2 linked regions of the Homo sapiens genome follow. The protein of the gene in region 1 interacts with the protein of each later gene in a pairwise test. Each region holds a gene or a part of one and is shown on either strand. Other genes may lie near its edges.

Evidence for each region.
Region 2: the proteins of PPP1R1B (region 1) and ROBO2 interact in a two-hybrid assay, tested with the Homo sapiens proteins (one large-scale study listed by IntAct).

What each region holds. Positions count from the first base shown.
Region 1 is NC_000017.11:39,629,860-39,633,666, forward strand, and holds part of PPP1R1B (protein phosphatase 1 regulatory subunit 1B), read left to right. Parts: intron 1-112; coding exon 113-188; intron 189-3,807. UniProt on the Homo sapiens protein: Inhibitor of protein-phosphatase 1.
Region 2 is NC_000003.12:77,038,568-77,042,474, reverse strand, and holds the start of ROBO2 (roundabout homolog 2 isoform 23 precursor), read right to left. Parts: upstream 2,377-3,907; 5' UTR 1,690-2,376; coding exon 1,629-1,689; intron 1-1,628. UniProt on the Homo sapiens protein: Receptor for SLIT2, and probably SLIT1, which are thought to act as molecular guidance cue in cellular migration, including axonal navigation at the ventral midline of the neural tube and projection of axons to different regions during neuronal development.

The sequences.
Region 1 (3,807 bases):
TTAGCAGTGGCTAAATCAGTCTGCTTGGGTGGCCATGGGTGGGATGGAATGGAGGGATGGTGAAGGCAAGGGCCTCTGCTGAGCCCCTTTAACCTGGCACTTCCCCTGGCAGAGAGCCTCAGGAGAGGGGCACCATCTCAAGTCGAAGAGACCCAACCCCTGTGCCTACACACCACCTTCGCTGAAAGGTACTATACCCCCACCGACCTTCCTGGCTGTCCGCCTGATCCCTGGAACTGGGCAGACGCTAGGGGAGCTTTTGTCAGTGGGGAGGGATTGTTTCGCCACACATAGCCCGCTGTCAGCGTGGCGCAACAACCCAACGTAAAGACCAATTTTTTCTCAGTCTGGCCTTGCAAAACACAGGAGTCCCGAGGCTGCAATGGGCAGCTATGGGCCTTAACATCGGGTTGTGGGCTTGAAAGAAAAGAGATGGCTGGCCTAAGACAACCAGCAGGCATCCGCGTGGAAGGGACTCCACCTGCAGCTCCTCTTCACCAGCCTGTGGTGGACCACCTCCCACCCCTGCTCATCCAGGGCGCCTTCTCCTGTGGGCTTCACCCCTGGCCTCCCCTCCCATTTGCATCCCATTTGCACAGATCTGCACACTGGTCTCCTCTTTCCTGCTTCCCTTTCTCCATGGAAAAGCAAGCCATTCCTTTTGCACACTTACTCAACACCTAGTATATGCCAGGCCAAGTTGGTGGGCATTGGGCAGAATAAGATGAGTCAGATTTGGTCCCTGCCCCCTTGGGGCTCTTTGCCTCAAAGGGTCAGGGAGGGGCCAAGTAAGGTGGCTCACACCTGAAATCCCAGCACTTTGGGAGGCCAAGGCGGGAGGACTGCTTGAGCCTAGGAGTTCGAGACCAGCTTGGGCAATACAGTGAGACCCCCATCTCTATGAAAAATTTACAAAGTGAGCTAAGCGGGCCGGGCGCAGTGACTCACGCCTGTAATCCCAGCACTTTGGGAGGCCGAGGCGGGCAGATCACCTGAGGTCAGGAGTTTGAGACCAGCCTGACCAACATGGAGAAATCCTGTCTCTATTAAAAATACAAAATTAGCCAGGCGTGGTAGCGCATGCCTGTCATCTCAGCTACTCAGGAGGCTGAGGCAGGAGAATCACTTGAACCCGGGAGGCAGAGGTTGTGGTGAGCTGAGATCGCACCATTGCACTCCAGTCTGGGCAAAAAGAGCAAAACTCTGTCTCAAGAAAAAAAAAAAAGTGAGCTAAGCATAGAGGTGCACACCTATAGTCCCAGATACTTGGGAGGCTAAGGCACAAGGATTGCTTGAGCCCAGAAGTTTGAGGCTGCAGTGAGCTATGATCGCACCACTGTGCTCCAGTCTGGGCTACAGAGTGAGAGCCTGTCTCGGGAAAAAATAAAAAAAGAAAAGGGTCAAGGAAGGTACACAAAGATGTTTAAGCTTGGATTTGAAGGATCATAGGAATTTAACAGGCAGGCAAGGGCATCCCAGGTCCAAGAAGAGGGAAGAAGGTGTGCAAAGAGAAAGAGATGCGAGTCAGAGGGGGACTTCTGGGCCAACCTGGAGGAGGCTTCGTTTCTAGTCAGGGAGCTGGGGAGATATACCTGAAGGACATAGGAGGGCCTCTTCCTGACTAAGCCCTGTTGCCTACCAACCCCCCACCTCAACTCCTGCCTGGGGCTCTTCCTGCCCGGCCAGCCCCCTCCGCTCCTGCGGAGGTTGGGAGGGAGAGCTACCGGAAGAGTATGCTGGGAAGTGGTTCGGGGGAGGGTTTAATAAGTTCCCAGCACCAGCCAAGGTCAACAGGTATACCTGTCAGCCCACTTGCCAGGGTTGGGAACAGAGAGGAGAGGCTGGGAAGGGAGGAGAGAAGGGAAGGGGTTATTTTGCTTTCCCCAGGACAGGAAAATGAAGGGTCAGAGCTGCAGCAAGTGGGCAGTGTGGCTCAGCACCTGGAAGGACCTCCCCACCTAGAGGGGTGTGTGGAAGGGCCCCAAAGCAGGCATGAGGGACAGAGTGTCATCTTCTCAGGAGAGAATTTAAGAAATCCCTCTCCCTCCCACCTTGGGCTGGGTAGGGAGAGGCTGGGTGGATGTGAGGGGAAGACCTGGCTCTTGACTGCAAGCATGGGCGAACAGGCCAGGATGAAGATGTTAGGGCCAGGGTGCTACCATGCACCGTGCAGTGGTCAAAATTGTGCACCCCCTCAACTGCCCCTTTAGGCCACATCTTAGGAGAGTCCAGGTGAGTAGAGGCAGGGAAGAGGAAAGGGATCAGGAGAGGGGTGGCCAGTCTGGGGCAAGGCTGGGGACCTTCCAACTGAAGAAGGAAGACTTGTGGTGGGGGGAGTTTGGGGCCCCACAGAGTGGGGCAGAGAAGGAGACAGCCTGGAAGGAGTGATGGGGAGACCCCAGAGAGCCCAGGAGGCATGAGGGAGGTGGGGGAAGCGAGGGAGGCTCACGGGGCACCAGCGCAAGCACCGCACACACCTTCTGTTGTCACTGTGGCTCACGAAGTGAACTCTCCTCCCCCGCTGGGGGAGAAGGAAGCTGCCTGGGCTGCCACCTGCTCTCCTGCCTTACCTCCCCCCACAGCCCTCATGGATCCTTCTCTACCAGGAGGGCACTGTTTTGTAGGCTTCAGTCCTTTTGTGGGCAAGGGAAGGTGCCCGGCAGGGTTGGGGCTTGTCAGGGAAGAATCGAGGGCCCTAGAGAGAGGGGCACAGCACTAAGTCTTAGCTTGAGGGGTTGTGCTCCAAGGCTGGAGCTCTCACACTTGGCTCAAGATGAAGCTCTGCCGCGTCCCCAAGGTCAGGGTAGGGTGATTTATTGTGCTTTTATTGCCTGGATAGCTTGCCCAGAGCCAGCAGGAGGTACTGGGCTGGGAGCTGGGGGCTGGGTGGGGCAGCGGGCACATACAAAGCACCCTCTGTGCCTGTCCCCGAGTTGGCAGGAGCATAGCACCCTGCTCACTGTGCCGGAGGTTTCCAGCCTGGCCCTACCCCTCTGGGCCTTCTGAGGGGAGGGGCCACTGGCAGACCAAGAAGGAACTGCAGCAACTCCCCATTCCCCACCCCCAGCCCCTCCTCAGCATCTTGTCTGTGGCCTGTGAACTTTGTGTCGCATATGTTCTAAGATCCTGCCAGCTCCTGCAGCCTCTCCTCAGTGGCCCCTCAACCTCTGCCATCCCCCAGAACCCCTGGCCTTGGCCCCTTTCTCTAACCCCTTGCTCCTTTCCATCTTTTGGAAACTTGTCTCCAGCTGCCCACACTGTTCCCTTCCCAGCCCTATCTGAGCAGGTCTTTGGAGGCTGGGGGGGTTGCTTTCTAGGTCACCGCAGAGGGAGCTGGGAACCTGGGGATGTGGGTCAAGATTGTGGGGGCCGCATCTGAGCATGCCGCATCCCCCGGCACAGACTGCACTGGCTGCAGACTATTATGTCCTCAGCCTCGGAATTGTTCTGTCCCTTGGAGCCCGGGGCAGGAGTATGTGGATTGGCATCTATGACTGGGCAGTGCCAGGGAGTGGGGACTATGCATCGCATGGGAGGTAGGATCAGGGTAAGCAGTGAGCCCTCAGCAGGCTGGGCACCCCCAAGAAATGGAAAGTGGCAAATCCCCAGGCCCTGGTTCCTACGCCCTGTGCCTTCTGCCTGGGCTTGAAGCTGGGAGACACTGTCTCCCGTACTGGGTACTTGGAAAATCAAGCTCTCCAGCCAGGGAATGTTAAGCTGCTGCTGTGCCCGCCTGGTCTTGCCCAGCCTAGTGCCCTATGGTGTGGGGGAGCTGCCTGGGGGCTAGCATCTTAGGACAGCTTAAGA
Region 2 (3,907 bases), on another chromosome or scaffold:
GGTGATAATTTTGTAGTCTAATGTATAGTTTACACATGCATTTCTGTTGAGATATGTAAATTCATGATTTATGAGGACATATTCTTTTAAAAGTTATACCAAATTCTTCTTATCATGAAAATCAAACACACCTGGGACAAATAGGTAAACCTATTTTGTTACGGTAATGTACACGTATTTTAATGTACTGAAAAATAAATGCATGAAAAATAATTAGAGATGTTGCCATAGTATAATTCACAATAATTAAATCTTAAACATCTACTGCTTAGACTGGTAAAAGAGAGAAGCAGTGCACACACACGCATCCCTCCCTCACTATCGCTGGGGGGCAAAGGTACTCATGTAGTCCATGATTGAAAACAGCCACTTGACAGTAGGTAAACTCCTCTGTATTGCCTCATGTTTATAGAAAGCCTTCCTTTTTGAGTCCAATACATTGGGCTCTATGCAGCAGTAGCTGCCAGGAACAAAGTTAGCTACTCAGATGGGCCAAAATAGGCAGTGTCCCAAATAATGAATTCATCCACAATGCAAATGCTGGAGGAAAGTTTATGTGGCAACAAGCTATTGTGATGGCTCAAACAGTTAGACTAATACCCTTTAGGTTCTTTACAAGTACAGAAAGTAACTAAAAACCTAAAGTACTGCAATCCAGTTAGAAAAAAAAAATATCTAGTACTCCCTTATACCAGTTGTTTCCATCGATATAAAAATTAAAGCCTCTAGAAGGTTAACAGCAAATATTCTTTTAACTTTTTTCTTTTGAATACAAACCAAAAAGCATGTTAATGATTATTTCCACTCTTCATTCAAAAGAACCACAAAAAAGGATTTTGCAATAGTCGCACAAGAAATTGACATCCTGTGAAAATATCCCAGTAAACCAAATCGGAACAAAAGACAAGAGAATCAGAGGCAGAATGCTGTGGGCTTGACAGACTGACTCAACCTAGAGGGAGACACCTCCAGCACCTGTTTAAGGTCCCCATTGTGTTTGCCCACTGGGGACTGAGCTAAGTGTTCTACTCCTGTGGCCAGCCCATAGCTGATGCTTCCCCCTTCGTGGAGCCTCGCCCAGTCTCACTTTTGACAGTTTTCTCCCTAGGATCTAAATTCTTCATTCGATTTAACGCTAGGAGAGCATTCACTGGCACACAGGTGATACACATTGATCTCAGTCTCAAATTCCTAACCCACTGAACCTTCCTTAGAGTGTCTATTACTGTATTTCTTCACTTGAATGTCTCAGCCAAAGTTCAGACACAAGAGCAAACATCAAATAGAGAGCAGGCACAATAGTATTAGGCTCTTGCAGGAGATTGACTGTAATATTTCTTTTTCTAACAAAACTGGGAGCCCAATCATTTATTATCCAACTCCTTAATTAGTGAAGTAAATTACAACAATAACAACAATAGGTGACTACCAACACATTCCACTTACAGCAGTTTAGAAACAAAAGACTTAAATAAAACCTCTGCCCCCAAGGAGCCCGTGCCGGGCCAAAACGGACTAACAGACATAATGTCATTTCATTTATAACCCACATCAAATTCAAAAAGAAATGGTTTTGGGGGATTGGGGGGTGGGGGGCGCAAAAAAAGATGAAAGCATTTTTAACTTACCATCAACCCGAACATATAAAAATCCACAGAGCAGTAGTTGTGTAAACATCAGCAGACTCATTTTGACATATTAAAAAGGATCCAGATTCTTTAAGAAACCAATCCCAGAGAGCAAAAGTACAAAAATGAGTATCAAAAAAAGAGGTAGGTCCAAAGTTTAGACTTTCCTAGATACTAATTAAAGTCAAGAAGAGCAAATCGCAAGATCAGAAGGGGTTGGTGGAGAGGTCTCGAACGGGGCACACTGAGATCCATCCAAATTAACAGAGGGTACTTCAAAGGCTGCTGTATTTCCAGCACTCTGGCTTCCTAAATTCCCACAAATTCAGCCCAGCCAGAGGGATTATTCGAGTGTGTCTAACCCTCTCTCCTTAGGCTCCACTGCAATCCAAAGCCAAGTTCTTCCTTCAGAAGTCAAGATGATGAAGGGGGAGGAAAAGACCTAATTCCTAGAAAGTGTTCCACAAACTTGCCAGCGCGCTGCCGAAAAACCATTGGCCTGCCTACTGGTTTTCTTTCCCCCGGTTTCCTTCTCCGTAGCAGCTCCACGTCCGGAGTTATTTTTTAATATGTCTATATTTTTACTTAACTTCCATAATAAGAATGTGTCAAAGCAACACTTTGCAGGCGGGCAGACTTGGCGGGCCTCTCCTTTGCAGCGGTGTTGCCCTCCCTCCACCTCTCCGGTTTCCAAAAGAGAGGAGAAGGGAAATCAGGACGATTCGGGTGGAGAATCCGAACTCCTACGTGGTGAGGGAGGCAGGGAAGGAGCGAGGGAGGGAGGGAGGGAGGGAGGGGCCGGGCGGAGGCCGAGGCTGCAGACACCCCCGCGGTGCCGCCTCTGAGGATAGTGCACCAGGCGGCTGCGGGCGCGAGCAGAGACGGGCGTGAGAGCCCAGCCCGGGCGCGGCGGAGAAAGGGAGCGCTCAGTCCAGCGCCAGGCGCGCTGAGGCCCCTCGCCCGGGTCCAGCCCCCGCAGCCTCGCAGCAGAGCGTCCGCTTCCTCCGGCAGCTGCCGCGGGTGGAAGGACTTCTAGGAGGGAAGGCGAGGAGGCGGGAGGGGAGGGGAGGAATGAGAGCTGCCTGGAGTCGGCCCGGGGAGGGGCGGGGGCGAGGAGGGGCGCGCGGAGCCCTGAACCTCCGGACTCGGCCACCCGCCCGCTGGGGAGTGGGGAGGGGTCCTGGAGAGCCGAGAGTCCCCGGGGGGACGGAGATGAACAAATTCGGAGAGCCCCGCCGGCTGCCGAGGGCCGAGGCCACCGGGCGACTCCTTCCCCTTCTCCGCGCCCCCGGGTGCCCACTCCTTCCCGCCTCGGGAGGGGATAGGTGGGCTCCAGGCTCCTGCTCCTCGCCGCGTCCCGTTTAATGGGCAGGTAATTTTCTCCGTGAGTGATTTCATGGAAGCCCTTCCTAATTATTCATCCCTCCGTCTGCCGGAGCTGCACGCGCTTTCTTGAAAAAGATCAGCCTCCAGGACCCAGGGCGCAGCCTCATTACGCGTTAAAATCACACACTCACTCACTCTTCACCTTTTAGCCAGATGAGAAGCCGAGTAGGAGGAAGGAAAGGAAAGGAAAGGAAATAGAAGCACCTTTTGGACTGGAAAGGTTGTGTGTAGATGCTTCCTATATGATTCAAAAGCACAAGGGGGAGAAAAAGGAGGGGGCAGAATTCTCTAACCTCCAGCGGCTCATTTTAGCCAAGATCTATGGCCCCCTGCGGCATCCCCAAGGGAAGGAGGAAGGGGAGGCAGCCCCTCTTATGTTACTCAGTTGCCTTTTGACCCCTCCACGATGAGTTTGATGCGCGATCGCGCAGGGCGAGGGAGTTCCACAGAAGATGCTAAGGACGGGGAAGCGGGGATCACAGAGCTTGGGGGAGGGGGATCCCCGAAGTCTTTACCCTCCAGGGACCAGCACCTCCAGAAGGAAATTCGGTAAACATAGGCTCTGGGTGTGGAAAGCCGAAAGCCCAGCTGAGCTCATGGAAGCTCAAAAAGAAGCCGAATTTCAGCCCAAAGACGACAAAACTCTGAAAATTAAGACCAAGACTACCAAAGGATGCCATTCAGGACCGGGGATGATGAAGGAAGGTCACGTTAGATCAAAGGGGTGCCGGTGTCGGCGGTGCCCCGGTGCGGCCGGGCCCACGTGTGATCACAGGCTCGCTGGTAGCCGTTTGATGCTTGTTCAGATGATGAGAAGGCGGCTTATAGGAACTCACGCAGGTCCCCGAGCCGAGCTAAATGCTGGATGGTGAGTCTTTAGTTCCCCCTACTGG